7 linked regions of the Homo sapiens genome follow. The protein of the gene in region 2 interacts with the protein of the main gene of each other region in a pairwise test. Each region holds a gene or a part of one and is shown on either strand. Other genes may lie near its edges.

Region 1 (4,199 bases), on a different chromosome or scaffold from region 2:
ATTTTCTGGGAATATAAATTTACAAAACACAAGTTTTACACCCTATTATGCCTCCAGAAGTTGCTGGGGTAAATAATAAATTGGAATATGTGTCATCAAAATTATACTCATAAATAAGGGATAGTTATCTTTGTATAGATACACAGTATGCATATTGCAGTCTACAGTAGCCAAACATGAATATACTTTGCGGACCATTGGTGACTTCCTGGTGCTCGATACCTCCAGGATAGCTTTGACCACACCTCAGATGGAGGCAGGTACCTAGTAAGGCAGAATTGTATCTACTATAATGTATTTTGTTGTAACACAATGTTATGCACAAGCAAAATAACTCTCCAGCCACACCCATGGTTAAGTGTGATTGTGCAAATATGAGATTTTTTTTTAAAAATTGTCTCATGTTAAGTGGAATTATTAATGATGATATAAAGGTGAACTCCTAATTTTGAAAAGAAATGTGATACTGATGAAGCTTAACGTCACTCACTAAACACAATTCAGTTTTCTACAGTTTATCTATGTCTACCTATTGTTTCGCCAGTGTCTTTATTCCTTAACATCTATTATTATTATTGTAATTATTATTATTATTATTTACTCCAAGTGCTAGAAAACTTTCTTGCCACAAACTTACGTGGAGGTGGCAACTTAGAAAATATAAGAAAAAGTAAAAGAACTTTGACCTAAAAAAAACTTTATAATTAGCTATTAGATTTCTACAATTTCAGAATTAAAAGGGACTTTAGGATCATTTAATCCCCAAAATACCAAGGTTATGTAATTAGAGCAGCTATTCAGTTAAGTATGCTGATAAATTTAAATTTCAATGAATAAACATTATACAAATCTAAAAATATATAATACAATATTGATGTCATGCCCACTATGTTACTTTTCTGTTTAATGAAATGAAATTACATTATTTAAAATCAAGGATTAATACTCAAAATTAGGGTTCTGTCAGGATCACAGAATTGTAGTTTAGCCAACTCCTTTATTACACAAGTACGAATAAGAAAACTGATTCTCTTTGAGCAAAGTGTCTGATTCTAAATATATTCCACTAAATTTTCAGAGATTTCTCTTCAAATTGGTCAAGAAAGTCTATGCATTAAAAACAAAAACAAAAAACAGACACCATGACTGTGCAAACAGGCTCTCAGGTACACGGCATGCCTTATTGTCTCTCGAAGTCCCCCCCATACGTTCATCCTGTGAGATATATTATAGCATCTATTACTGTGATAACAGAATTAAATAATCAACATTTAATAGTTATGGGGTATGTCATAAGTCTTTAGAACATAAGAACAATGAGGACACTCTACTTAAAAACAATTACTACCACAACAAAAACCTGTTACTTCACATACTTGATAGATTAGTGTTTAAGAGTGCAGGGATTGGTCCAAATCTCACTCTCCCATGTACAAACTGCCTGATTTGAGATGCATTTTCTAACCTTTATAACTTTCAGTTTCCAAATCTTAAAAAAAAAAAAAAAAAAAAAATAGAAGCCTGTTACTACTGTCACTACTACTAATTCCTGCCAAAGCCTTAGGAGAGGCAGTGCAGGTATCAAACTCTGCATGAGCCTGGAGTAAACCTGGGGGCATAGTTGGTAACTACTATTGCTACTACTATTCCTAATATTAATACCGCTCTGGCTACTGCCATCACTACTTCACTTATGAGTGCTCGAGTTTCTATTCACAGTGGTCCTTTGGTATCCAAAGGGGATTGGTCCAGGCCCCCTGTGGATATCAAAATTGGGTTGCTTATATAAAGTGGTATGGCAGTTATATACAGCCTACGCACATCCTCCCAAATACTTTAAATCTTCTCTAGGTTACTAAAAATACCTAATAAATGTAAATGCTATGTAAATAGTTGTTATACTGTATTGTTTTTTATTTGTATTGTTTTTTATTGTTGTATTGCTATTTTTTATTGTTTAATCCAAATACTTTCAATTAACAGTTGGTTGAATCTATGGATGTGGAACCTGCTGATACGGAATGTCAGCTATATTGATTTTCTTGAATTCCTGTAGCTGTCTGAGGCTCCCTCATGTTTATTTCCTAAACTCTCTTACTTATCTGTATTCAAAAATAGAGGTGCGATGAAACTAAGATGGGTGATATTGTGTTGTTCTATCTTTCATATATCAAATGGCAGTCAATGATCCACATTCAGTGAAACTTGGAAATATAGGTAGCCAAAAGAACACACGTATTCCTAAGGTTGATTTAATATTGCAGTCTTTAGTAGTGGGGCTGCTAGGATAATATAATCAGTATTTAGTCAGTTCAGAGAGTTCCTATTGCAGAATTAGAGGGAAGGAACTCCAAGGAAAACGTGGTTCGAAACTTAATAGCATCTCTTCTATCTAGCTGTGTACTTAAAAATTCCACTCTTGGGTCCCTGTGCCTCTTCTACTATAGCAAAATGAAATGTTGGCAAAAATATTCTGTGCTTACCACCTACAAAGATGCATTCCTTCTCCTATTTTTAATGCTTGAAGTGTACAATTTCCAGTGTATTTTAGTCTCTGATTTTGTGAGTTGGTGCCCATCACAGGAAATGCATCCTCCAAATTACAGTCCGGTTCACCACTCTGCGCCAAAACAGTTTAACTGAATAAAAACCACCACCCAATAATTTTGCAAAGAGTTACACAACCGTGTTCTATGGCTGTATCGGATGAGGTGGAAAGAGGGGGAAAGTGTTTGTTTTTTTGATTTTTCCCCACCCCTTTCTTCTTGTCCTATGAAGCTGTCATGCTTACTCGTTCTCTTCCAACCGCTTAATGAAATTTAAGAAAACAGTGTTAAAATGTTTCAGTTTCTGTTCATTACTAAACAGTGATGAACATACTATAAAACATATTATAAATACTTTAGTGCAAGGGACAAATAAAGAAGAAATATAAGCATGAGAGAAATTTTTCATTTTACTGGTGTCACGGTAGACCTGAAAATAAAGATTTTCTATCACTACCCTCTTACCTGCTGGAATTCTTCCATCTGTGAGAAACAGGTCGCTGAATCCTTCACCCAACAGCCTATCTATTGGAGAATCTCGCCCCAAATCATAATCACTGTCTCCTGCCTCACTGTCACCACGGCCACTGTCTTTCAAGCTAAATTTGTCCATGTCTTGAAGGGCATATCTGGAAAGATAAATCACAAAAAAAAATTACAGTTTTTACTCTTCAGCATTTATGTTGAAACTTAATAGGTAACACAAGAATAATTCATACCTGTAGCTCCTGGAATATTTGTTTCCTCGAAAACTTGGTCTTGGCTGATATTGCCCCTGGTGAAGCATTGAAAGAAGCTGAGAGACCTGCTGGAAACCAAATAGACAGAACTGATTCCCGGAAACAAGCCTCCAAACACTCACAATCTTTAAGCAAGAAAAACAGTTGCTTGCTATTTCAACTAAGTAATTGAATATATTCTCTCTATTTAAAAGATTTGCAAATGCTGGACTGTGGCGGACCACGCAGCCAGCTACCAACTATAACTAAAATATATCTCAGAGAGATTTGGATGACCTAATACAACTGACTTTTACTTTGTGAAAGAAGACTCCCTTTCAAATAACTGATTTATTTTCTTTATAATTCAGACAAAGTGACCACCTGTAAAAATACATGGAAAATACTGTAAAATACAACACTGCAATGCATGTAGTTTAAAAAATGTCAGGAAATCTTCCAAACTTGGACAAACATAGCATGCATTGAAATAGAAGTCTGAAGGCCTCAGTTTTTTTATTTGTTCAGTAAAGACTATAACCTTGAAAATAAAGCAAGTCTCTACTTTTTGGCTTCCCATTATTTTAATCTGGGAAGCAAGGGGACTCTAATTACATAGTCCTTTGTGACCTTCACATTTATTTTTCAATATTACACATATTATATGAAGTTATTTACTTAAGGAAAACTAAAAACAGTATGCTAAAGTGTGCATCTTTGCTACATATTCACAATGTAACTTGTATCCTACTTAATTTGCACAGTATTAGTATTGTTACTTATTAATGAAAACATTTAAGAACTAGTAAACACAATTCCTGAACACTAACACCTAACATTGCAATGAATTGATGCGGTTTATGATCTTACCTCAACAGCAGGAGTGGCGTGGGTGAGTTCTAATGAGAAATTCTCTGGCACGTGGTTTGATGAG
Region 2 (4,199 bases):
AAATTAGCTGGGTGTGGTGGTGTGCACCTGTAATCCCAGCTACTCAGGAGGCTGAGGCAAGAGAATTGTGTGAACCCAGGGGGCGGAGGTTGCAGTGAGCTGAGATTGCACCACTGCACTCCAGCCGGGGCAACAGTGCAAGACACTGTCTCAAAAAAAAAAAAAAAAAAAAAAAAAAGACAGTTTCCCTCTGTCGCCCAGGCTGGACTGCAGTGGCAAGATCTCAGCTCACTGCAACCTCTGCCTCGCAGATTCAAGAGATTCTTCCACCTCAGCTTCCCAAGTAGCTGGGACTACAGGCATGCACCACCACACGCGGCTATTTTTTGTACCCTTTTTTTTTTTTTTTTTTTTGAGACGAAGTCTCACTCTTATCCCACAGGCTGGAGTGCGATGGCACGATTCAGCTCACTGCAACCTCCACCTCCCAGGTTCAAGCGATTCTCCCGCCTCAGCCTTCCGAGTAGCTGGGGATTACAGGCATGCACCACCACACCTGGCAAATCTTGTATCTTTAGTAGAGACGGGGTTTCTCCATGTTGGTCAGGCTGGTCTCAAACTCCTGACCTCATGTGATCCACCCGCCTCGGCCTCCCAGAGTGCCGGGATTAGCAGCATGAGCCACCATGCCTGGCCAGCATCTTCATTTTTTAAAAAAAGGATAATAATAGTGCTTTCATCATAAAGTTATGTGACATTTTAAAAAAATATAATGCATCATGCCTTATAAATCATGCCTGCAATAAATATTGGCCATTATGTCATTGTCATTAACAGCATTTGCAAAGGTTCAAAAAGGGGAAGAAAGAGCCAGTGATATTTGAGGGTAGGGGAAGAGACAATACAAACTGGCTGAAATGCAATGAAAACAGGAGAAAAGGCAGGTGGAAGCACATCCTGAAAGCTTTATTAGCTGTGCTAATTCAGCAGTCACTAGCTACATATGGCTATTAAGCACCTGAAATGTGGCTACTTCAAACTGAGGTATGCTTAAGTGTAAATTACAAAATATATTTCAAAGACTTAGTATTTCAAAATGCAAGATATTTTATAGTCTTTATATCAATTGCACCTTAAAATATTTTAGACATACTGGGTTAAATAAAGCATATTAAAATTACAATAGCCAAAAGGTGGAAGCAACCCAAGCGACCAGCAACAGATCAATGGATTTTTAAAATGTGGTACATACATATAATGGAATATTATTCAGTCATACACAGTAAATTCTGGCTGGGTGCGGTGGCTCACACTTGTATAATCCTAGCATTTTGGGAGACCAAGGGGGCAGATCGCTTGAGCTCAGGAGTTTGAGACCAACCTGGGCAACATGGTGAAACCCTGTCTCTACAAAAAAATACAAAGTAGCCAAGCATGGTGATGTGAGCTTGCAGTCCCAGCTACTTGGGGGGCTAAGGCAGGAGGATCACTTGAACTTCAGGAGGTGGAGGCTGCAGCAAGCCATGATTGTGCCACTGCACTCCAGCCTGGGTGACAAAGTGAGACCTGTCTCAAAAAAAAAAAAAAAAGTAAATTCTGACACATGCTACAACATAAATGAACCTTGTGGACGTTATACTAAGGGAAATAAGTTAATCACAAAAGGCCAAACACTGTCTTATTCCACTTATATGAAATACCTAGAGTAGTCAAATTCAGAGACAGAAAGAAGAATGGTGGTTGCTAGAGGTGGGGGAATGGGGAAAATGGGGAGTTACTGTTTAAACGGTCCAGGGTTTCAGTTTTGCAAGATGAGTTCTGGAAACGGATGGTGGTAACAATTGTACAACAATGTGAATGTACTTAATGTCACTGAAGTGAACCCTTAAAAATGGTTAACATGATAAATTTTGTTATGTGTGAGTCACCACTATTGAAAAATTGACTTCAGTCCTTCCTTTTGATTAAAGTGGCTAATAGGAAAATTACATATGTGGCTCATACTGTTTTTTGTTTTTAAGAGACCAAGTCTCATTCTGTCACCACAGCTGGAATGCTGCGGTGCAATCATAGCTCAGTGTAACCTCCAAACTCCTGGGCTCAACCTTGCTGGACTAGCTGGGACTACAGGTGTGTGCCACCACACCTAGCTAAATTTTTATTTTTTTGTAGACAGGCTGGTCTCGAACTCCAGGAGGTGGGGGCTGCAGTGAGCCATGATCACTGAGCCATGGTGCTCAAGCAATCCTGCCACCTTGGCCCCGCAAAGTGTTGGGATTACAAGCATGAACCACTGAGCCCAGCTCACATTGTATTTCTATAAAAAATAAGTCATGGTAAAAATTTCCAATGAGAAGTGTTTTGATGAACAAGATATATTAACAGGAAGCCCTAATACCAGGGTAAGCAAACTTTCTGTTACGGGCTAGACAGTAAATATTTTTGGCTCTACCAGCCACATGGTCTATTCTGAAAGGAGCTATAGATAACACATAAGCAAATGGGCACAATAGATTTCGACTACCAGTTTGCTGGCCTCTGCCCTAAGGCACCCATTATAAGCAATGGCTCTTAAATTTTCATAAATTTTGTGAGCCAGTTTAATAACGGTATCTTGAAATCTGCCACAGTGAGAATATTTACATCATGGAAATCCAGCAAACACTACAAATCAGTGTTTTTCCTGAAGAACGGGTTGATAAACCAGCATTTACCAACAAACCACTCACTATGTAATGAATTAACTTCTCTCCTATACATCTAAAATTATATTCATTATGAACCATCTTTGAAAAGAAATGGATAGCTATTCATATCACTTTCTGTGCTCTGTGGTTCAGATGAGAATCTCCAGCTAAGAAAGGTGGTTCTAGAAGAGTAATGTTCCAGGCAGAGAAGCAAGAGTGAACATCATGAAGCAGTCAAGAGTTGTGCCTGGAGAGTGGTGACCTGGGGGGAACAGCTTAAGAGGAAGCTTCCACAAAAGGACTGGGAGCTACCAGATTATGTACATACTACACTCAGTAAAGGTTCAACAATAAGTAGTTATTACTGAATATGTATTATTGTACATAATGGACTAGATTCATCTGTAAATAATTTATTGAGCCCTAGGCTCTGGTAACACAATGGTGAACAATCACAGCCCCTCTCTAAAGAGAAGGAATCACATAAATATACAATTTTTAGTTGTGATGAATTCTTATCAAAAACAGGCTACTGTGAGAAATCCAACAGGGGATCCCAATCCAGTCTGGACAATCAGAAATAGATACTACCTGGAGAAACTGACCTTTGCATTAAGATTTAAAGATGGAAAAGGAATGGGCAAAGAGTGTTCTTGCATTCTAGGTAGCAAGAACAAACTGTACAGAAGTCCTCAGGCAGGAAAAAAAGTATTAACAGGTCAGGGAACTAGAAGGTCAATGTAGTCAGCCAAGCAAGCAAAGAAAGAAGGCATCTGCAAAAAATGGAGAGGGCATGGAACCGTATTACACAGGGCCTCGCTACTCCATTATATATTCTAAGACCAACAGGGAGCCATTAGCTTTACACAGAGGGTGGCATGCTCTGATTAACGTTTTTCAGAGATCACTCTTGGAATGGCTGGTGGGAGAGTTATAGAAGTCAGGCAACTGACCAGTAGGCTACTGCAGTTTCTAGGCAAGAGGTAATGGCAACTTATTGGAGCCACTACCCGATATTTTAAGTACGTAATCTATAAAATACGCCACCACAGAAATTTTTGCTCTCAGGACACCATTTTACAACTTCAGAACTCCAAAGAGTTTTGCTTGTTTAGGTTATAGCTGTTGATATTTATAATATTACAAATTAAAACTGAATAACCTTTAAAAATAAATTCATTTAAAAATAATACATTATATATTAATAAAAATAACATCCTTATGAAAAATAACTATTTTCTCAGTGATAAGAGTGGCATTATTTTAAATTTTTGGAAATCACTTTAGTCTTGTAATAGAAGACAGCTGGATTTTCACATCTGTTGTCATATCCCACACCTTAAAGACTCTAGCCAAGTGCACTGCCCAGTTTTGAGAAAATTAGACTGAAAAATAAAAATAACATCTCAGAATTACTATGAAAATAGTTTCATCTCATGGTACCCTTAACAGGGTATGGGGACTCCCCAAACCACAGTGAGAACTACTGCTCAGATAACAAAAAGCAAATTTGTCTAGCAGGCTGTCCAGTTTTCCTCAGAGTGCCCCCAGCAAAAATAATAATGAAAATAA
Region 3 (4,805 bases), on a different chromosome or scaffold from region 2:
GAATGGCATGAACCCAGGAGGCGGAACTTGCAATGAGCCGAGATCGAGCCACTGCACTCCAGCCTGGGCGACAGAGCGAGACTCCGTCTCAAAAAAAAACAAAGAAAACATGTAACTATGGGAAAATAATAGTGGCATTATGGGCTGGGCGCAGTGGCTCACGCCTGTAATCCCAGCACTGTGGGAGGCTGAGGCGGGTGGATCACTGGAGGTTAGGAGTTTGAGACCAGCTTGGCCAACATGATAAAACCCCATCTCTACTAAAAATATAAAAAATTAGCTGTGCGTGGTGGCGGGTGCCTGTAATTCTAGCTACTCAGGAGGCTGAGGCAGGAGAATCACTTGAACCTGGAAGGCGGAGGTTGCAATGAGCTAATATCGAGCCACTGCACTCCAGCCTGGGCAAAAGAGTGAGACCTTGTCTTAAAAAGAATGGTGGCATTATAAGGTTCCTGGGTGCCTAGGGGCCCGAGGAGGGAGGAGGGGCTGCCCCCAGCTGGAAGGAGGAGCAGGGAAGGAAGGCTAGACAGTGAGTAGGAGTGTATTCATGGACAGGGCCAAACCATGGGAGCAGTTTGCCGGGTGGCCAAGGAAACAGGTATTCCTGTTGATGAAGGTGACCAGCGGAAGCTCTGGGGCCTGACTCAGTGTGAGGGATGAAGAGGAGCCCATGTGAGGCTGGAGAGGTGGCCTTTCTTAGATGCCATTCCAGAGACAGCCACTGGAAGCTTTAAGGTGGAAGGTGCAGTGGTCAGACCTGCACTTTAGAATAGTTCCTTTCGTGGGTGCATGAGGAATGGACAGAGACAGCAGGCACTTTGCTTAGCTGTGGGCGGAACTGAAGGGGGAATTGGATGCTGGAGAGAGTAGCAGAATCAAGAGGTAGAGGGGGTCATGTCAGCAGGACATGGTGACCCACTGGACAGTGGGGAGCAGAGAGAGGGTGAGGTTACCGGGTCTCTGGTTGCTCCACCAGTGGGAGGAGGGCCGGGCCTTCTGGGTCTGGGACAGTTAAGTTGGAGGTGCCTTGGAGATGCCAGTCCTGATTGTCTGGCAGACAGCTGGATCAAGGGAGAGGTCTGGGAGGTGCCAGAATGGTTGAGGCTCTAGAGACAGGGCCTGTGGAGTGAGGGAGGCACTGGGGCGGCAACTGGGTCTCACTGTCCCTGTGGTCTCTGAACTGAGCCCCACTGAAACTGGAGGAGCCCCCAGCCTTGAGCTCAGAAGGCAGACTCCTTCCTAGAGATCCAGGCAGGCCTTGCAAATTTTGTTTTGTTTTGTTTTGGCCAAGTTACATAAACAGAGTAGGGGGACCTTCAGATCATTTTGATTTTTGGTGGGAGGAGGCTCAGCAGGCCGAAGGAATCCAGCACTGCAGTGAGAGGCCTGGCTGGGGAGGGGAAGCCCTCCAGTTATCTTGGGACAATCACTCCTTGGGGGCCTGGGACCTGGCTGGCTCTTCATATCTGGTTATCTCGCCTGGCTGATGGGAGACGATGTTGGCCGATAGGAGGGAGCTGACAGGCCTCTGGATCAGATCCGAGGCAGGGACTGCCCTTCCCTGCATGGGCCCTCCTCTTCTGTAGGGTGGGCTGAGGCTTGGGCCACGGGCCAATGGGGCAAGCAGGGAAGGTCAGGGAGTAAAGTGAGCTGGAAGCCGGGGTTGGGAAATGAAACACAGAGGGGTATTTTTCTCATCTGGAAGTGTCCCCCCTCCCAGGAGTCTTAGTCTGCTTCTTATTTTCCCATTTCTCAATAAAGAACATGGGCACTGAGAAACATTTCCCAATCATAGTGCTGGGGGCGGCAGGGTGTGGGGGCCACGGTCGGCACCTGAAAAGGGGCAGCGCCTCCTCAGCCCCTCACTGCCATGAGGGAATGCAGGGCCATTGTCACCGGATGGTTAGTTTCAAGAGAATCTAGGAATCCAGATTTCATGGGAAATCTCCCAATTGGCTTAAATTTTTAAATAAACACTGCCGGCCAGATGAAGTCTGTGGCCTGGACGAGGCCTGTGGGCTGTGGTTGGCGTTCTCTGGGCTAGCCCGGCCTCTCTGACGTCCGTCCTTTCTGGCCACGGCACACTGCAAGTTATCACCCAGAGGAGGAGAGGACACTAGATAGGAGCACACTGAGCCTATTCCAGATACTTCTCTGACATGAGCCTGAGTGGCTGGGCCAAGCTGTGTCCCTTCCCTGGAGTCTCCCTTCCTTATCAGCACAATGAACGCCAGGGCTAGATCTGTGGGTTTCAACCTTTCGTTCCTTAGCAGCAGAACTTTGTTTCATTTCAATCTTACAAGGGACAAATCACAGTGTATGAAATAGATTGAAAATCAGAGCTGCTCCTGTCGCCCAGGGAGTCTGGAATTCTGCCCCGAGGCTGCCTCTGCCCTCCCCCACAGAGGCACCTCTGACAGGCTCCGCAGAACACAGTGTGGGACTGCCCACCTGCCGGCTGGCCCTCTGCACCCCTCCCAGTCCTGGCATTCTGTGGGTTGAATGGGAGGACAAGAATGGCAGCCAGAGGAGGGCAAGCCACAGTGGGTCTGCCCCATAGCCAGCTCCTCGCCCACATTTTGTCCAGTCCCTGGCACGAGGTGATCGGCCAGTCACTGGGTGCAGCTGGCACTTCCTGGGTGCTTTCCACGTAGTTTTGCCTCCTCACATCAGCCCTGTAAGGCGGGTGTGGCTATTTCCATTTCACAGGTGAGTAAACCAAGACACAGAAAGGGGAAGTGAGTTTCACACAAGGTCAGTTGGCTGGAAAGGGAAGGATCCCAGGTTCTACCTGGGCGTCTGAGACCCCACAAGCTGCTCCCTCCCCGTGGGGCTTCCTTTATTCTTCACTGAGAGCCACGATGCTCCGGGGCAGTCCCACATCCGTGTGGGTGGTAGGTCCCGGGAATGACAGTTTCCATCTCTTGTGTTTCTGTGGCATGCTTCTTTGCTTTCAGATGTGATCTCCTTTTGCTGGCGTCAGGCTTGATCCATCTAAGCAGGACTCTCCTTTTTATCACCTCACAGGAGGCTGAACCGTCTGAGCCCAGAAGTGCTGAGGTGACGAGGAAGCCCAAGGCTGCTGTTCCTTCTGTGAACAAGAGGCCCAAGAAAGAGACTAAGAAGAAGCGGTAGAAGAGGAGGCCTGAGGAGCTGGGCGGGCAGGGAGAGGGTCTTGGGGACAGCCCTCCTGGGAATCTACATTGTGTTCCCCCGCATTCCAGGCTCAGGGTCTGAGGAGGCTGTGACGCCCTATGACCGCAGAGATCTAGACAGTCGTAACAGTCCCCAGGCTCCAGCTGGGCAATCCACCACTTCCTCTTCCTTCTGCTTCTGTGACGGTTTAGAGTCAAGGGGGCTGAAACACACTGTGAGCATAGACTGTATTAGGTTTGTTCAGAAGCCGGGTCAGCTCACAGAGTCACATTTTCTTGCTTAGTCATGTGTCCCTCCTTGAGTTGCCCCCTCCTTGTGGGTTTACACTACATTTGGGAGTCATTGTCTAATGCTGACAAGCACACCCTCTCCCATTATTTGTGCACTACAGATCTCCTCCTGATCAGTCACCTTTGTTGCTGCTGTGTAGACAGAGCCAGGCCTCACCTGTTTGTTTAGGCCAAGATGCCATGGACATGCAGCGTTAGTGATCCCACTAGCTGTGACAGCCAGGCCCAGAAAATGCCTGGCGTGAGAGCCAGCAGACAGCCAGGCCAGGGTAGGCAGTGCCTGCTTCTGCTCCATCAGGTGCAGGGGATTTGGCTGAAGGCGTGCATATTTCCTGGGCACAAACTTCCTGAGCCTCTGAAATGGGAGGCTCGTCAATTTCAGACCAACCTCTTTTCAACCCATCATAGCACGTTCAAGGTGTGCCTTTTACTTCTACCTGTACATCCCCCATCCCTTCAATTCTTTCATTCCCTGACCAGTGAGAGGGTTCCTGGGGGAAGTATGGTGAATAAACTGACATGCATGCTTCAGAACCTGCCTGTGTTGTCTTTTGCTGAGGGAGAGGGGAAGCCTAGGGCCCTGCCCCGGGGATGAGGGAAAGGCTTGACCCCCAGAGAAGTGGGACAGTGGGGGTGAGGATGGCCAGAATAGGATGGCTTCGGTAAGAGCAGTTCTGCAGGCTGAGCCATTCTGGAAGAAGTTTTCAGGAAGGATCCGGCTAAGTGCTTCGTGTGGCCCTTAGTCACTGGAAACACTTGTGAATGGCCGTGGGTGTGTTAGAGTTTCCACTGGGTCCAGGCCCCACTCATTCCCCAGGTTCCTTCTGAGGAAGATGCTGCTTGTCTTCAAAGTGGCTTGAGAAAAACCAAGTGCAATACAGTAAAAGGCCTTACGTGGCATTGGCCAGGTCTAGTCACTTGCCCTGAATCAGCTGCTGAGGAAAAGCCCTGACCTCTTGGTAACTCGGATTTGCCCAGCTCATTTACAGCCTGCCAGACAGCTTTCCCAAATGCCAGGACTGATGAGGATCTTAAGAGATGAGCGACTATCATCTCTGTTTTGGAGATGGGAAACTGAAGTCCAGACTACTTTGAGAATGTCCAAGCTGGGATTTAGACCCAGCCCACGGCACATTCCTTGGTATTTAACAGGTATTTAGCGAGTGTTGGTAGGCACAGTGCTATGAGGGTCCTGCTCTGCTGCAGAGGGGCTTGGCAAGATCTCCCAGCACTTCAGGTTTCAGGAGAGGAAGTCCAGGGGCTGGGGATTGTGCATAATGAAGGGCTAGATACTGGCTTGAGAAGGAGCTTCTGCGGATTGTTTCTGTTTCATAACACTTACCGAGAGCTTCAATGCCA
Region 4 (4,199 bases), on a different chromosome or scaffold from region 2:
GATTACAAGCGTAAGCCACTGTGCTCAGCCAATATATGTAGTTTAAGGCAAACACCTGTGAATCAACACCATAGTCTAGAAATAAAACACTGCCAGTAATTTAAAATCTGGCCAGGCGCAGTGGCTCACGCCTGTAATCCCAACACTTTGGGTGGCCAAGGCAGGTGGATTGCCTGAGGTCAGGAGTTCGAGACCAGCCTGGCCAACATGGTGAAACCTCATCTACTAAAAATAAAAAATTAGCTGGGTGTGAGGGTGGGCGCCTGTTATCCCAGCTACTTCGGTGCCTGAGGCAGGAGAATCACTTGAACCCGGGAGGCAGAGGCTTCAGTGAGCCAAGATCATGCCACTGCACTCCAGCCTGGGCAACAGAGCGAAACTCTGTCTCAAAAAAAAAAAAAAAAAAATCTTCCCACATGCCACTCCCTGATCACAAGCCCCTCCCCCAGCCCCAGAGGTAACTAATATTTTGAATTTTGTGACAAGCATTACTTAGTTTTCTTTGTATCACTTATCCCTAAAAAATATACTTTGGTTTTGCCTGTTTTGAGTTTTATTTAAACAGAATTATACTGCATGTATTTCTCTGTGACTTGCCTTCTTTTGCTTGACACTGTATTCATGAGATTCACCATGTTAATAACTGTAAGTATAGCTTACTAATTTTCTGTGTTCTATAATATTCCATTGAATGAGTAAACCACAATTAATTTAACCAATCTACTGATGAACATTTAGATTGTTTCCAGTTTTTGTGTTATTATGAATAATGTTGCTGCTAAATACAGTAGTCTTGTATATGTTTCAGGCACATGAACAAGTCTTCTCTCGGGAATAGTCTTAGAAGCCCAACTGCTACATCATATACTATGCACATCTCCAAATTTACTATGTGCTGCCAAACTGTCTTCCATAACGATTATACCAATTCCATACTTCCACCAAAAATATTTGAGAGTTCCCACCATCTCCTCACCAAGCCTTGGTACTGCTCAACTGTTTTTGCTAATCTGGTGGATATATAATAGTATTTCATGATTTTACTTTGCATTTGCCCCAATTTTAATGTAGTTGAGTATCTTTTCATGTTTATTGATCAAACTTTCTCCTTGGTAAAGCACCATATCCAGTCAGTCTTCTATTGCCTTGTCTTTTTATTGCTAACCCATGGGAATTCCTTATGTATTATGGATACTAATCCTTCTTAAGATCTTTCTGTCTTTGGGAGGCCGAGGCGGGCTGATCACGGGGTCAGGAGTTCAAGACCAGCTGGCCAACATATTGAAACCCCATCTCTACTAAAAATACAAAACATTAGCTGGGCTTGGTGGTGGGTGCCTGTAATCTCAGCTACTTGGGAGGCTGAGGCAGGAGAATCACTTGAACCCGGCAGGCGGAGGTTGCAGTGAGCCGAGACTGAACCATTGCACTCCAGCCCAGGCAACAGTGTGAGACTCCATCTCAAAAAAAAAAAAAAAGATCTTTTTGTCTTGAGGTACTACAGCATCACTATGATATATCTAGATATAGATTAGTTTTTAAATTGATCCTGCTGGAGATTTGTTAGGCTACTCAAATCTGTGGGCTGCCATCTTTCATCAGTTCTGGAAAATTCTCAGCAATTACCTCTTTGAATTATTTCATCCCTATTTTTGCTCTTTTTGTGGATCTATGATCAGATGTTAGACTTTCTCACATGATCCTTCATGATTCCTAACATCTCTTTTACATTTTCTATCTATTTTTATCTGTGACATAGTCTGGATCATTTTTTTTTTCATACCTTTCAGTTTACTAATTTTCTCTTTAGCTGTTTCTAATCTGTTACTAAAATTTTATCTCAAGTCCTTATAGGTCTGCTTCTGTTGACAGTTGTTTTAGCAGATTACTGTCCAAATTGGCATGTGTTCATGTGTTTAGTTATTTCTGACTGCTCACTTTCCTTTGAATTTCATTTGTGGATATGAAGCCTGGGATGAAGGCAGGTTCCTCCAGAGCAGATATTCATTTGCTTCTGTCAAGAGCCTGGGGTAATCCCTAGTCCAAAGATCACTTCAAATTCATTTCTCAGTTTACAGTTTTTTAGACTACACAAGTATTTATGAGTTCAGGCTGCAAGTGTGTAAAAAGGATGCCTTGTGATTCCAAATTCTCACCATCAGATTGTTTTCCTCTCTCCATTTGATGTCTTGGTTCACATCAGCTTATTATCTTTGCAGCATCACGGCAACAGGGGCAAGGGCAGGAGCAGACAGGAGGAGGGACAGGGTATTCCTGCTTTATCCCTACACTGAAGGTGCAGCTCTTTGGGATTCCAGAATTATGAGATAAGATCTCCTATCAGACTTCTCTCCATGAACACTCTCAGGTCTTTAGCTTTAGTACCCCAAGCCAGTGAGGTGGAAAAACCACCAGACAAGTGTGAGTTCACCTAATGTTCTTTAGGGTAAAATTTCTCTGGGTTCTTGCCTTCACTTAGTTTTTCAGGTTGATAATCTCTTTCTTTCTAATTCAGCAGTGTACTTAAGAAGACTTTCTTTAAAATATTTCATCAAAAAGTCTTTATTCTTTAAAGATTTATTTATTCTTTAAAGAAACATTTATGGATAAAATGATATGGTCCCTGGAATTTGCTTTAAAATAATACAGAACAAAAAATAATACAGTAGACAGAGTTATAGAGGAAACAATATTCATCATGATTTGATAATTTTTGAAGTTGGGTAAAGGGTATTACAGGGATATCGTTGATATATATTTGAAATTTTCTATAATAAAAAATTTTGTTTTTTCATGAAAAATGTAAAAAGAGAAAGAAAGGCAAAAACGGCAAAATCAAAAATCTGGAATTTTTAGTTGTTACCAATGGGCAGGTTAATTCAGATTCCTAGCATTCCATATCCACAAGACAATACTTTTTTATTTGCCCCCAGAATTAAAGAGTTATTTTTTTTTGCCTTCCCCACAACTACCTTCTTTCCATAGTTGTCAAGATCTCATTCCCATTCCTTTCTTCCTCTTTCGTCATGTCTGCAACAGTTTTACAAGTAATAATTGAAACATAAACTTGTTTTTCTTTTAGGAGTGACTATTAACACTAACTCCAATCTTTATCAGTATCTTTCTGAATTATAAATTCTACCTGTGCTATTTATAAGGCCTTTAAATTAAATCCCAAGCAGATACATTTTTATATTCATGCCACATTAATGCACTCCACAGTTTGAAAGAAAAACTCTTTGTGGATGAAATATTTGGATAAGGTTGTCCAATATCAAAGAAAATAATATAAACCACTTCTTTTAGGACAGTTATAATTCTAAAATAATAAACACATTTGCAAAAATAATAACTTTTTACCACTTATAAACACAATACTGACTACATTTTTCTCTGCAAAAACTCAAAAATGAGAAGGAAAAAGAACACACAATATTAAAATCATTCTTTACCCAGTCTGTAGTAAAGGGAGCTCCATTTGCCATCAAAATACGAACTTCATCATCTTGACCTGCTCGTGCCGCTTCTAAAAGCTTCTTTCCCAAATCTACCAGGGACATCTAAACAAAACATAGATGAACTGAACATCAAAATCTCCATTTATACACTATGACATGACATTTTCCCTTCCTGTCTTTATTAATAAGTCAGTTCTCAATTATCCCTTCAAAAGAGTGTGCTATGGTTAATTTAAAATTACAGATCATACAAAAGCAATTTATATTTGGATTTTAGAATCCATTTTCCTTTCTCATTAAGTTTTTACTTAGAATAAAAGTAGTTTAAATTCTCCAAATACATCTGGTAAAAGATAGAAGAGGTAAGTAGCAGAGAAAAGCTGGCCTAAATTTTTATTTATTTATTTTTTTCTTGACACAGAGTCTCGGCCTGTCACCCAGGCTGGAGTGCAGTGGCACGATGTTGGCTCACTGCAACCTCCGCCTCCTGGGTTCATGTGATTCTCCTGCCTCAGCCTCCCAAGTAGCTTGGACTACAGGCATGCACCACCACACCCAGCTAATTTTTCTATTTTCAGTAGAGACAGGGTTTCACCATGTTAGCCAGGCTGGTCTCAAACTCCTGACCTCAAATGATCTGCCCGCCTTGGCCTCCCAAAGTGATGGGATTACAGGCATGAGCCACCCCACCCAGCCAAGCTGGTCTAAAATTTAAAACTGGCAACTAATTGTTTTTACTGG
Region 5 (4,199 bases), on a different chromosome or scaffold from region 2:
ACCTAAGAGTGAGCCAGGCGTGGTGGCTCACTTTGGGAGCTGGGTAATCCCAGCACTTTGGGAGGCTGAGGCAGGTGGATCACCTGAGGTCGAGAGTTGGAGACCAGCCTGACCAACATGGAGAAACCCCATCTCTACTAAAAATACAAAAAATTAGCCGGGTGTGGTGGCACATGCCTGTAGTTCCAGCTACTCGGGAGGCTGAGGCAGGAGAATTGCTTGAACCCAGGAGGCAGAGGTTGCAGTGAGCCAAGATCGCGCCATTGCACTCCAGCCTGGGCAACAAGACTGAAACTCCATCTCGAAGGAAAAAAATAATAAAAATAAATAAATAAATAAACCCACCTAAGAGTGAACACACAGCAGAAAAAGCAAAACACCAGGTGGGGAAAAGAACAGAACAGGAGGCCGGGCACGGTGGCTCACGCCTGTAATCCCAGCACTTTGGGAGGCCGAGGCAGGCGGATCACGAGGTCAGGAGATTGAGACCATCCTGGCTAACACGGTGAAACCTCGCCTCTACTACAAATACAAAAAATTAGCCAGGTGTGGTGACAGGCACCTGTAGTCCCAGCTACTAGGGAGGCTGAGGCAGGAGAATGGCGTGAACCCGGGAGGCGGAGCTTGCAGTGAGCCGAGATCGCGCCACTGCACTCCAACCTGGGCGACAGAGCGAGACTCTGTCTCAAAAAAAAAAAAAAAAAAAAAAAAAAGAACAGAACAGGAAAGTCGACGTATCTGGAAGGTATCTCTCCTAAACTCACAAGAATGAAACCCAGCTCCTCCCAACACTCCCTTCTGAGCAGACAAAATGGGCCTAATCAGCATCATCTCCACTGAAGGCAACTTCAGGCCCTTCCTCAATGCCTACTGATGCTGACTCCTGGATGGTTTCTGTGCACGTGTTTAAAAACAAACACAAGCTGGGCGCGGTGGTTCACGCCTGTAATCCCAGCACTTTGGGAGGCCAAGGCAGGTGGAACACCCGAGGTCAGGAGTTTGAGACCAGCCTGGCCAACATGGCGAAACCCCGTCTCTACTAAAAATACAAAAAAATTAGCCGGGTGTGATGGCGGACTCCTGTAATCCCAGCTACTCAGTAGGCTGAGGCAGGAGAATCGCTTGAACCTGGGAGGTGGAGGTTGCAGTGAGATCGCACTATTGCACTCCCATCTCAAAAAAAAACAAAGAAACAAACAACACATTTGAGATACCCTGTGTCCAAAATAATGGAAGGGATAGGGATGTGACCTATGACAGCAAGGAAAAGGCTGAAAACCAGTCAAAGCAGGTAAGACTAACAGGCAGAGTCCCCAGACTTTCTGTCAGACGAGCGCAGCAACTGACTAGTGCCCATAAGGGCAACCCTGGAGCCATCTAGGAAAGGGAAGTTCTCCCTCTCCCTATCATGCCACTGTTCCAGGGACCACTCCTGAACTCGGGCAGGCAGGGTTAAGCATCTCTGGGCCAACTCTGCAGATGCTTTGTGGCCCATCTGGCTCAGCCCAATACCCCAAGTCAGCCCATGAGGCTTCTGCTTGGATCCCAGCCTGGCATCTCAGCACTGCCAGCACACGGGGCCCACTCTGCTCTTACGCCCCCCGAACCAAGTTCAAGGACCTTGAAAACAACCCCAATCCAGGGGTAACATGTTGCCACTTCTCACACTTATTCTGCTTGGACTATACAGTGAATTTTTTTTAATGGCAATGTAATTCCTATACAATTCACCCTTTTAAAGTGTACAAGTCAGTACATAGTGAATTTTTAAATGAAGATGCAGTTCCCATACAACTCAGCCCTTTTTTTTGTTTTGAGACAGAGTCTCGCTCTGTCGCCCAGACTGGAGTGCAGTGGCATGATCTAAGCTTACTGCAGCCTCTGCCTCCCGGATTCAAGAGATTCTCATGCTTTAGCCTCCCGAGTAGCTGGGACTACAAGCGTGTACCACCATGCCCAGCTAATTTTTGTATTTTTAGTAGAGACGGGGTTTCACCATGTTGGCCAGGCTGGTATCAAACTCCTGACCTCAGCTGATCCACCCGCCTCAGCCTCCCAACGAGCTGGGTTTACAGGCATGAGCCACTGCGCCTGGCCACAATTCAGCCTTTTTAAAGTGTACAATTCATGGTTTTTAGTACATTCACATATTTTGCAATCATAAACTCTATCTAGTTCCAGAACATTGTCATCATCCCAAACAGAAACCCCTTGCCCATTAAGCAGACACTCCCCATCCCCCTTCATCCCAGCTGCTGGCAACCACTAATCTACTTTCTGTCTCTATGGATTTGCCAACTCTGGACATTTTGTATAAATGATGCCTTTCAAGGTTTGCATCACATATTTTTAAAATGTGGCTTGGAATGTCTTGCTCACTTGGAGCCAGGTGCCGTGCTAAATGCTTTATACGTTTCTACTCATTTAATCCTAATAACCACCCCATGAGGTAGATAGTGTTGTTATCCCTATTTCACAGATGAGGAAACCGTAGCACCGAGCAGTTAGGCAAATGGGACAGAGTCATAGCAGCACTGGGCAGGTACGCTTTAAAGCCTACACTCCATGTGTAAGCTGGACCTCTCTTTAAGGGAGCAGGCACTTGGTGGCTTGCCAACATGCTCATCAAGTTTATTCTTTTATTCTTTTGTTTTGTGTGTGTGTGTGTGTGTGTGTGTGTGTGTTTTAAGACAGGGTCTCACTCTGTCACCCAGGCTGAAGTGCAGTGGTGCGATCTTGGCTCATTGCAACCTCTGCCTCCCAGGCTCAAGCAATCCTCCCACCTCAGCCTCCCGAGTAGCTGGGACTACAGGCGCATGCCACCACGCCTGGCTAATTTTTGTATTTTTTGTAGAGATGGGGCTCTTGTTATGTTACCCAGGCTGGTCTCGAACTCCTGAGCTCAAGTAATCTGGCCACCTCAGCCTCCCAAAGTGCTGAGATTACAGGCATGAGCCACTGCGCCCGGCCCCCTCATCATGCTTATTCTTGACCACTTCTCACATTCCTATTACCTGCATGATCCCTGAAGGTATCTGTGTTCATGCCTTCTGCTCTGGTTATGCAGGTAAACCTGAGTTCAAATCCAATTCAGCTAAGTGTTAAGTTCCTAAACCTCTCTGGGCCCCATATTTTTCATCTGAGAAGTGGGTTACCAAACAGTTACCTGTAAGACTCTATGTAAAAGGGCCACTATGGACATCAGGAGGTGATATGGGTCACAGTGCCAACAGGTCGGGGTAATGTGGCGAGGCAGAGGGCCTGGCATATAGGTGTTCCAGAAATGAAGCTCCTGTTAAGATTACTACCCATCCACATCACTGACAGTCTTCTCCTTGCTGCTCAAAAGAACAGCTTCCCATTTCTGGAGGCACATACAGGCAGCATACCTGTCCTCAGAGGACTTTTTGGAACTAGTAAAATACACAGCAGACTGAAAAGCCCTCTGTAATTAGAACAAAGATAACTTGTTAACCGCCCTTTAAACTCCTGGGAGCCTAAAGCCAGCCTCTACTTGCTACTTGCTAGAGCCTGGAAGGATTTCTCAGATTATGCAGAGTTGCTTCTGTGTGCTTTCTGAGGTCTGCCAGGGTTACTCAGCCACATCCCACTACTGAGGACCAGGACCAAGAATAAAGTGGCTCTCAGCAGGCCTACCCAAAATGCCACTCCAGGGCCCAAGAAGAGCCAACTGGTGCCTAACTGAGGCACTTGCTTTGTGTTTGTCATTTTGACGCAGCAGCTCTGAGACTACCAGGATCCCAGAGAAGACCACCAATGCAAAAATCGTATTATCTTATTTTGGACAAAAGATCCAGAAAACTGTTGGCTGGGCACGGTGGCTCACACCTGTAATCCCAGCACTTTGGGAGGCCGAGGCAGGTGGATCATGAGGTCACGGGATAGAGACCATCCTGGCTAACATGGTGAAACTCTGTCTGTACTAAAAATACAAAAAGTTAGCCGGTGTGGTGGCTGGCGCCTGTAGTCCCAGCTACTCAGGAGGTTGACGCAGGAGAATGGCGTGAACCCAGGAGGTGGAGCTTGTAGTGAGCCGAGATCGCGCCACTGCACTCTAGTCTGGGCGACATAGCAAGACTCTGTTTCCAAAAAAAAAAAAAAAAAAAAGATCCAGAAAACTGGGCCCTTATCTTGAAACCAAAGCTGCTTCTGGTTTCAGTTAATTAATTTAAACAATA
Region 6 (4,199 bases), on a different chromosome or scaffold from region 2:
CAAGAACCAAACATATCCTTCACCCAATTAAGAACACATGTATTAAACAGTCAGCACAGATGGAGAGGCATCCTGCTTCTTGCTCTGGCTGAGACCCAACACCTTCCTGATTTATTTGGAATTAATGATAAATACAAAGCAAAGAGTAGGCTATTGGTGATCTAAACAAAATGGTGTGTAAATAAATCTCAGCTCCGACCTAGGCACTCACTTGCTGCCCAGAATGATTCTTCGGTGCTGTGTATGATTATGTGCATAAAAATCTGTTGAGAGCTCTGTTGCCTCACAAGGCAGATGATTCAACGTAATGGGTATTTCTGCTGCCTGAGACTGCATAAGCTGAAGCACTGGCTGGGAAGCAATGTCTTTATAAGGCATCTTTCCCCAGAGGCATGAGGGTGGACAGCACTGAGGGGGTCATGAGTCGGCTTAGAGAAGTGAGGAGTTTTTGTTACTGTGTGTTCTTGATTCAATTTGGAGTTCAGGTATAAATCATCATAGCTCTTAGTTAAAATCTGTCTCAATGAATCCGCTATCCATGAGAGAAAGGTTAACACTGTCTCTGCCACAAGGAAAATATGAAATACTGAGATCTACCCTGCCTATAGCAAAACTAGATCAAGAGCCTACCTAAAGCTGTATACAGGCCAGCTAGGGCCAAAACTGGTGCTTAGGATAAATACAGCATTCCAAGCAGAGCTATAGGAAAATAGGTTTTGTCATTAAAAATAAAGTTTTGGACAGGCACAGTGGCTTATGCCTATAATCCTAGCATTTTGGGAGGCCGAGGCAGAAAGGTTGCTTGAGTCCGGGAATTCGCGACCAGCCAGGGCAACAAAGCCAGACCCCGTCTTTACAAAAAAAATATTAAAAATTAGCCAGGAGTGGTAATACTTGTCAGTAGTCCTAGCTACTTGGGAGGCCGAAGCAGGAGGATTGCTTGAGCCCCAGAGTCCAAGACTGCATTGAGCTATGATTGCATTGCACTCCAGCCTGGGCCACACAGAACAAGGACCTGACTATAAATTAAAAAAAAAAAAAATTGTATCTTCCTGTTTCCCTCCTTATATATATATGTGCATGTTGCTATTAGGCTATTTGAGTCCAGTCACCATTTTTACCTTTTACCCCAAGGAGGGGAGGAGAGCACTTATGTAAGAATCTAGTCTTAAAGTATAAGTTGTCTTGTTATGTTTCTTATTTATGTTACATAGTCCTGAAACCTTGTTTAGAAGAGACACTTTAGTATCTGAGAAAGGCTTGTTTGCCTTACGTTCTCCATCTCAACCTATTATGGCTTTGAGTGTGTGTGTGTGTGTGTGTGTGTGTGTGTGTGTACACAGGATCCCAAAGCCTTATGACTCGTTAAGCTGTCTGACTGAATTTTTGACACTCAATAAAAAATGAAGCTTCAAAATGCTCAACTCTCAAAATAGTACAGTAGTTTTGTTTTTGTTTCTTTAAACTGTGCTTAAAGTATGGAAAGACTGAACAATCTCAAAGGTCAGCAGTAATGATGTTATTCTTAAAGGGGCCCTGTGGGTCTTTTTTATAAAAGCAGTGTCATATCCTTTTTATGTAATCAATATGTTGCAGGAACAATAATTTCTTACCATTAATGTGGTGTCTTTTACTTTTTAAAATATCTTCATGTCTGTTATCTTAATTTGGTTTATACAGGAACGCAGATTGAAAAAGAATTTTATTTTCTGCAGTTAACGCCACATTTTTTCAGCTTAAAAAACTAAATTTCACTTTTCTATATTCTTATATAGAGACTAGATAACTGCTGCTTGTGTAGCTCGATGTCATAACAGATGGGTAGTTCCAAATTCAATTTGGTTGTAATCTAAGGGTTTTTTTTTTTGTATACCTTTGTCAAGTTATTATTGACATAAAGTGAACTGTATGTATTTAAGTGCATAATTGATGAGTTTTGACGTATGTATTTACCAGTGAAACCACCACTGCAATCACGATAATGAGCATATCCATTACCCCCCCAACATTTCCTCATGTCCCTTGGTAATCCTTCTCATTCTCGCCATTCCCCCGTCCCTAGGCAATCACTCATCTGTTTTCTGTGACTCTAAGTTAGTTTGCATTTTCTAGAATTTTACGTAAATGGGGATGAACAATACCTGTCACTCTTGGTAGATTTCTGCGTTGACTGAAAAAAAACAGAATGTGACCTTCAAAGTGGTGGCATTCTATTGCTTGAATCCAAGTGTCCATTATGTGAGGTAGAAGGCCTTTGATTTCTATCTTTTTAATGAGATCCTAATGTTTAATAAAAGTAGCAATAACTGACATTTGTTGAAAGCCAACTATGTGCCAGGCATTGTTCTAAGCACTTAGATATATTTTCTCATTTAAACCTTACAACAATCCTATGAAGCCGGCACCATTGCTAGCTCCATTTTACAGATAAAAGAGACCAAGACACAGGCCAAACAGCTAGAAAATGGTAGAGTTCAAACTCAGGCAGTATGGGACTTGAGAGCCACCACTGCCTTCCAGATGTAACTAGAAAATTCAAGCCTTCTAGTAGCCTTAATACCAATAGTGAAGCATAACAGTGAGTTACATAGTTCAGGAGCCAGAGTTCCATGTGAACTTGGAGCTGACTCTGAGATCTGATGCCTGGAGCTGTAGCCCAAAACTAAATGTCTTTGTACTGCTGCAGTTTTACCTGTGTCATCAATTATTTCTTCCTTGCATGGTTTTATCTTTATTGGAAATTGATTTCCCACCCCACACATTTTCATGTTTTCTGAAAGTCTTTTAAGATTTGACCTAAATTTTTGTTTTCTAGATGATCCAGATCCTGATGATGGATTTAACTATAAACAGATGATGGTTAGAGATGAGCGGAGGTTTAAAATGGCAGACAAGGATGGAGACCTCATTGCCACCAAGGAGGAGTTCACAGCTTTCCTGCACCCTGAGGAGTATGACTACATGAAAGATATAGTAGTACAGGTGGGTGAGATGAAGGATTCTGAACAGGGACTCAGTTTCTCTTTTTGTGGCTTATTCTGTCTTTCCCCTTTAGCCTTATATAGCATATCTTATATATATATATGCTATATAGCATATCACTGTATATGCTATATAAGTATTGGCCAGATTCAGAATCCAAGGTCTGTCACTGTTTTTCTGTGACCTTGATCAAGGTGCCTTGGGCATTCTGTTTAGTATGATAATACCTTCTGTCATATAATGTATTTTGCCATTTCATTGGTAGCTTCATATTGTAAGAATGGGGGGAAATCCCATTATTTAAAATATCCCATGACCAATAGTCAGACATTGAGTAATAACAGTGATACTAAAGAACTCTCACAGAAGGCAGTTACTGACAACATAGACTATCTATAGCTAAACACATAATCACTGGTCACATCTCCTGTTAGTGTGACTTTAGCATGACTAAGGCTACCAGGTAGATCATCATGGGCTTGATGGGATAGTTTGTCATTAAGCAGTGTCAGTGTTCTGTCAGGAAGACTCAGTTATTTTAGATTGAAGCATAGGAAATTGCTCATGTTTTACCATTTCTTGGCTAGAAATGGTTTTAACCATACAGACACACATGCATACATACATACATACATACATACATGTACAAGTGTGTTTAATGAATAATAAATGTTTACCTAAACTAGATACTTTACTTTCTTCTGGCAAATTCAGAGACCAACTTAATAGTCTCTTCTTATTCTTTCCTGTTTAGGAAACAATGGAAGATATAGATAAGAATGCTGATGGTTTCATTGATCTAGAAGAGTATATTGGTAAGTCTCTGCTTTTAGTGTTTTTCTTAGAAAAGCTGAGAAGCTTTGAAAGGTGTATTTGCTGGCTGGGCACAGTGGCTCATGCCTGTAATCCCAACACTGGGAGGCCGAGGCGGGCAGATCACCTGAGGTCAGGAGTCCAAGTCCAGCCTGGCCAACATGGGGAAACCCCGTCTCTACTAAAAATACAAAAAAATTAGTTGGGTGTGGTGGCGGGCGCCTGTAATCCCAGCTACTCAGGAGGCTGAGGCAGAAGAATCGCTTGAACCCAGGAGGCGGAGGTTGCAGTGAGCCGAGAACACGCCATTGCACTCCAGCCTGGGCAACAAGAGTGAAACTGTCTCAAAAAAAGAAAGAAAGAAAGATGTATTTGCCCATAGAAACAATTTACTCCAAGGGTCA
Region 7 (4,199 bases), on a different chromosome or scaffold from region 2:
CTATATTTCAAAATGCAAAGGAAAATTGAACAGTGTAATTATAAATCTTTTAAAATCCAGATTTCATTTTTTTTAAAAAAAATCTAGGAACTTTGCAAGCAGCACAGTTGACTTTGTAATCTTTACATGTACTATAAGTACAAAGTTAAGCAAAGGAAGTCCCTGAATAACTAAGCAAGCAGAGAAGTGTTATTCTGGTTATGACTGTATTAACAATAGAGAGTTGCCAGGCGTGGTGGCTCACGCCTGTAATCCCAGCACTTTGGGAGACTGAGGCAGGCGGATCACGAGGTCAGGAGATCTAGATCATCCTGGCTAACACGGTGAAACCCCATCTCTACTAAAAATACAAAAAATTAGCCAGGCACGATGGCACGTGCCTGTAGTCCCAGCTACTCGGGAGGCTGAGGTAGGAGAATTGCTTGAACCCAGGAGGCGAAGGTTGCAGTGAGCCGAGATCACGCCACTGCACTCCAGCATGGGTGACAGAGGGAGACTCTGTCTCAAACAAAAACAAAAACAAACAATAGAGAGTCTTCAGCTGTGTCTCTGATAATTGAGCAAAGGAAAGCTATCAAAGCTATTTATTCACACAATGAAAATGTGAACATCTATTTAACATAGCTCTATAAGAAAACATATTCAACCAAAAAGCATCTGCACAGCAAAGGAAATAATCAACAGAGTGAAGAGACTACCTGTTGAATGGAAGAATATATTTGCAAACTATCCATCTGACAAGAGACTAATATCTAGAATATACAAAGAACTCAAACAACTGAATAGTTTAAAAAACAAGAAAACTTATTAAAAAGTGGGCTGAGGATATGGATAGATATTTCTCAAAAGAAGACATACAAATGGCCAGCAGATAAATGAAAAAATGCTCATCACCAATCATCACAGAAATCTGAATCAAAATGACAATGAGATATCATCTTACCCCAGTTAGAGTAGCTGTTATTAAAAAGCCAAAAAATAACAGATGCTGGCAAGGACGCAGAGAAAGCAGAATTCTTATCCACTGTTGGTGGGAATGTAAATTAGTATAGCCACTGTGGAAAACAGTATGGAGGTTTCTCAAAATATTAAAAATAGAACTATCACATGATCCAACAATCCCACTACTAGTATTTATCCAAAGGAAAATAAATCAGTATATCAAATAGATACCTGCACCCCCGTGTTTATTGCAGCATCATTCACAATAGCAAAGATAAGGAATTGACTTAAGTGTCCATCAACAAATAAATAGATAAAGAAAAATTTAGTATATATACACAATAAAATACTATTTGGCCATGAAAAGAATAAAATCCTGTAATTTATAGCAACATGGATGGAACTGGAGGTCACTGTGTTAAGTGAGATAAGCCAGGCACAGAAAGACAAATATTGCATGTTCTCATTCATATGTAGGAGCTAAAAAAGTTGGTCTCATGGAGGTAGAGAGTAGAATAATAGATACCAGAAGGTGGGGCAGGTGTGTGTGGGTGGGTGAGGGATGAAGAGAGGATGGTTAGTGGGTACATATAGTTAGATAGAAGGAATAAGTTCTAATGTTCAATAGCAGAGTAGGGTGACTATAGTTAACAACAATGTATTGTATATTTCAAAATGGCTAGAAGAGAGGTCTTTTAATGTTCCCAACACATAGAAATGATACTCAAAGTGACAGATACTTCAGCCACCCTGACATGATCATTACACATCCTATGCATGTAATAAAATATCACATGTATCCTATAAATATGTAGAAATATTATGTATCTGTTAAAAAAAAGAGAGAAAACCTGTTCAACACTGAGAACTTTAGTCCAAAAAAGTAAATAGTATCACGGAGAAGGGCTATGTTTTCATAAATAAAAGTACACACAATAAAACAATGTTAAAGCTGGAATAAGGCTGTTAAGAGCACTGAGTCCAATTTTATGAGGTGAAGTACACACCAAGGTCACAATGGCGATTTGTCCTATTCTAGGGATTAGGACTCCTACATTCCCTCCTGTACTATTAGTTCCACCTTTTGCTTGTGGAATGAATGATACCCATAATCTCCCCACCATAAGTAATCACTTCAGAATGCTCTTATTTAGGAGTATAGAGAAAAAACTGTTGCTCTCAAATAGTTATTTCCATAAAATGCAGAATAGTGCGAATCTTTTGGAAAAGCAAACCCACGGCAATTTTATTTTGAGACGTCAGGTGGCAGCAATAACCTAACAGCAGGCAGAAAGCTTTCAGGGAATTGCAAAAGGAAGAGAAAGAACAGGCTTTGAGTAGGAGTGAAGGATGGAAATACTCCCATTATAATATAATCTCATTAAGAATGGGTGCACGCAATGCCATCTTTACATATTACAGGATTCATTATAGGATTCGCCAAACCAAACAATGGCACATGTTGCTCCAACATTATTCAGATAGTTGAAGATCCCTTCTAAATGGTCGCATCTTAAATTAGCATTAAACATGTTTATTAGTGAGTTTTCTTGAATTCTTGAAGTGAGGCACTAGAGACAGATTTAAACATTTTTTTCAGTGAAAAACCTTTTTATTGTGTAACAACACATGATGTCTCTCAGGAAACAACAGATATCTATGTCATCATGGAATTCCCACCACCATCCCAGTCACTGTAGGGTGCTGGACAGTAACAAAATCTTTCCCATTGGTTTCTGACTAGAGGTCTAAGACTGGGAAGCGCTCAATAAAAGAGATGAGGCAGGCAGAGAACAGAGGTGAAAACAGACCAAGAATAATGCCAAAGGAAGTGGAAAGAAAAGGTGGTGGAGGGCAGAGGAGCCATCCTCTTAAGAGTTGATCCTTGCAGAGAAGAACTGACATAGGCCATGCTTAGCTACGCTCTCCTCGGCCCCCATCCAGAACCTCAGAAAACACTAATATCATTATGTGTTGCATTTTAAAGACACAGAAAATCCACGGAATAATTCTGAATTTTATATATATATATATATATATATATATATATATATAATTTCTAAATTATACTGCTTTAAAATCATTTCCAAATTTTATGCTCTTAAAAAAAGAATATTTACAAGATTTCTGTTTCTTCTAAGTTCGTTTGCTGCTGATCTCACTGAACTTAGAATCCTCTCTCAAAGCCAGCTGCTATAGAGATATAATGATGTCATCAGAAAATTAGATTTTTGGTATCTGGGTTAGGCGTGAGAGAGGAGCAAACAACAATAAATTACTAGAAATTAAAAATCCATTTGAACAAACAATTCTAACAGATACGGGTAACCCCCTACAGATCACCTTCAACCTGTTTCTTTTTCCAGATTAATCAGAGATATAGGAAATTAAGGTGGTTTAAAAATATGTTGCCTAATGGCCGGGCTTCCCGACATACATCAAATAATGCAAAGTAACCCCTCCTGTTTCCTTCTCATTGTATCAAAGGAGAAAAAGTTTATATTTCACTAACATTTGTGGTTATAAATGCTAATCCAGTTCCAGCACTTAGAGTTAATAAAAAGACATCTTATTTATTTATTTGCTTATTTATTTACTTATTTTGAGACAGAATTTCGCTCATGTTGCCCAGGCTGGAGTGCAATGGCTCGATCTCAGCTCACTGCAATCCGTCTCCTGGGTTCAAGCGATTCTCCTGCCTCAGCCTACTGAGTAGCTGGGATTACAGGCATGCGCCACCACGACCGGCTAATTTTTTGTAGTTTTAGTAGAGACGGGGTTTCTCCATGTTGGTCAGGCTGGTCTTGAACTCCTGACCTCAGGTGATCCGCCTGCCTTGGCCTCCCAAAGTGCTGGGATTACAGGTGTGAGCCATCACGCCTGGCCAATAAAAGGAGATTTTAAAAAATGCTGCTACCTCACTATATTTCAAAATAAACTGAATTTTTAAAATGTATACTTTAGTAACAGTGTATATACCAAAAGTGGGGGAAACTTCCTGTCTTAAATTTTTGAGCTAAAAGAATACAGACCCCAGAGTCCTAACAGAACCAGGTTTCAGTCCCAGCTCCACTACTACCAGCTCCTAACAAGAAACTAGTGATTGCCTCATTGTCCTTTGACATAAAATGGGGATAGTAATTTAAGAATTAAATGAGATCATATACATAAAATCTTTAACCCAATGCCTGGGACGTAGTAATATGTTAATAAATGGAAGAGGAAGAGTTGTTATTGTTGTATGGTCATTTATTCAA

What was found.
Region 1: the proteins of UBQLN1 (region 2) and PCDH18 interact in binary tests that used the Homo sapiens proteins (3 or more experiments, as listed by UniProt).
Region 3: the proteins of UBQLN1 (region 2) and MANBAL interact in binary tests that used the Homo sapiens proteins (3 or more experiments, as listed by UniProt).
Region 4: the proteins of UBQLN1 (region 2) and GABPB1 interact in binary tests that used the Homo sapiens proteins (3 or more experiments, as listed by UniProt).
Region 5: the proteins of UBQLN1 (region 2) and CD99L2 interact in binary tests that used the Homo sapiens proteins (3 or more experiments, as listed by UniProt).
Region 6: the proteins of UBQLN1 (region 2) and CALU interact in binary tests that used the Homo sapiens proteins (3 or more experiments, as listed by UniProt).
Region 7: the proteins of UBQLN1 (region 2) and HSD17B12 interact in binary tests that used the Homo sapiens proteins (3 or more experiments, as listed by UniProt).

Annotation. Positions count from the first base shown.
Region 1 is NC_000004.12:137,525,467-137,529,665, forward strand, and holds part of PCDH18 (protocadherin-18 isoform 1 precursor), read right to left. Parts: coding exon 4,136-4,199; intron 3,355-4,135; coding exon 3,266-3,354; intron 3,176-3,265; coding exon 3,012-3,175; intron 1-3,011. UniProt on the Homo sapiens protein: Potential calcium-dependent cell-adhesion protein.
Region 2 is NC_000009.12:83,697,400-83,701,598, forward strand, and holds part of UBQLN1 (ubiquilin-1), read right to left. Parts: intron 1-4,199. UniProt on the Homo sapiens protein: Plays an important role in the regulation of different protein degradation mechanisms and pathways including ubiquitin-proteasome system (UPS), autophagy and endoplasmic reticulum-associated protein degradation (ERAD) pathway.
Region 3 is NC_000020.11:37,313,281-37,318,085, forward strand, and holds the end of MANBAL (protein MANBAL), read left to right. Parts: intron 1-3,027; coding exon 3,028-3,135; 3' UTR 3,136-3,980; downstream 3,981-4,805.
Region 4 is NC_000015.10:50,306,239-50,310,437, forward strand, and holds part of GABPB1 (GA-binding protein subunit beta-1 isoform beta 2), read right to left. Parts: intron 3,561-4,199; coding exon 3,453-3,560; intron 1-3,452.
Region 5 is NC_000023.11:150,891,919-150,896,117, forward strand, and holds part of CD99L2 (CD99 antigen-like protein 2 isoform 1 precursor), read right to left. Parts: intron 1-4,199. UniProt on the Homo sapiens protein: Plays a role in a late step of leukocyte extravasation helping cells to overcome the endothelial basement membrane. Acts at the same site as, but independently of, PECAM1.
Region 6 is NC_000007.14:128,756,056-128,760,254, forward strand, and holds part of CALU (calumenin isoform a precursor), read left to right. Parts: intron 1-2,815; coding exon 2,816-2,982; intron 2,983-3,736; coding exon 3,737-3,797; intron 3,798-4,199. UniProt on the Homo sapiens protein: Involved in regulation of vitamin K-dependent carboxylation of multiple N-terminal glutamate residues. Seems to inhibit gamma-carboxylase GGCX. Binds 7 calcium ions with a low affinity.
Region 7 is NC_000011.10:43,809,166-43,813,364, reverse strand, and holds part of HSD17B12 (very-long-chain 3-oxoacyl-CoA reductase), read right to left. Parts: intron 1-4,199. UniProt on the Homo sapiens protein: Catalyzes the second of the four reactions of the long-chain fatty acids elongation cycle. This endoplasmic reticulum-bound enzymatic process, allows the addition of two carbons to the chain of long- and very long-chain fatty acids/VLCFAs per cycle.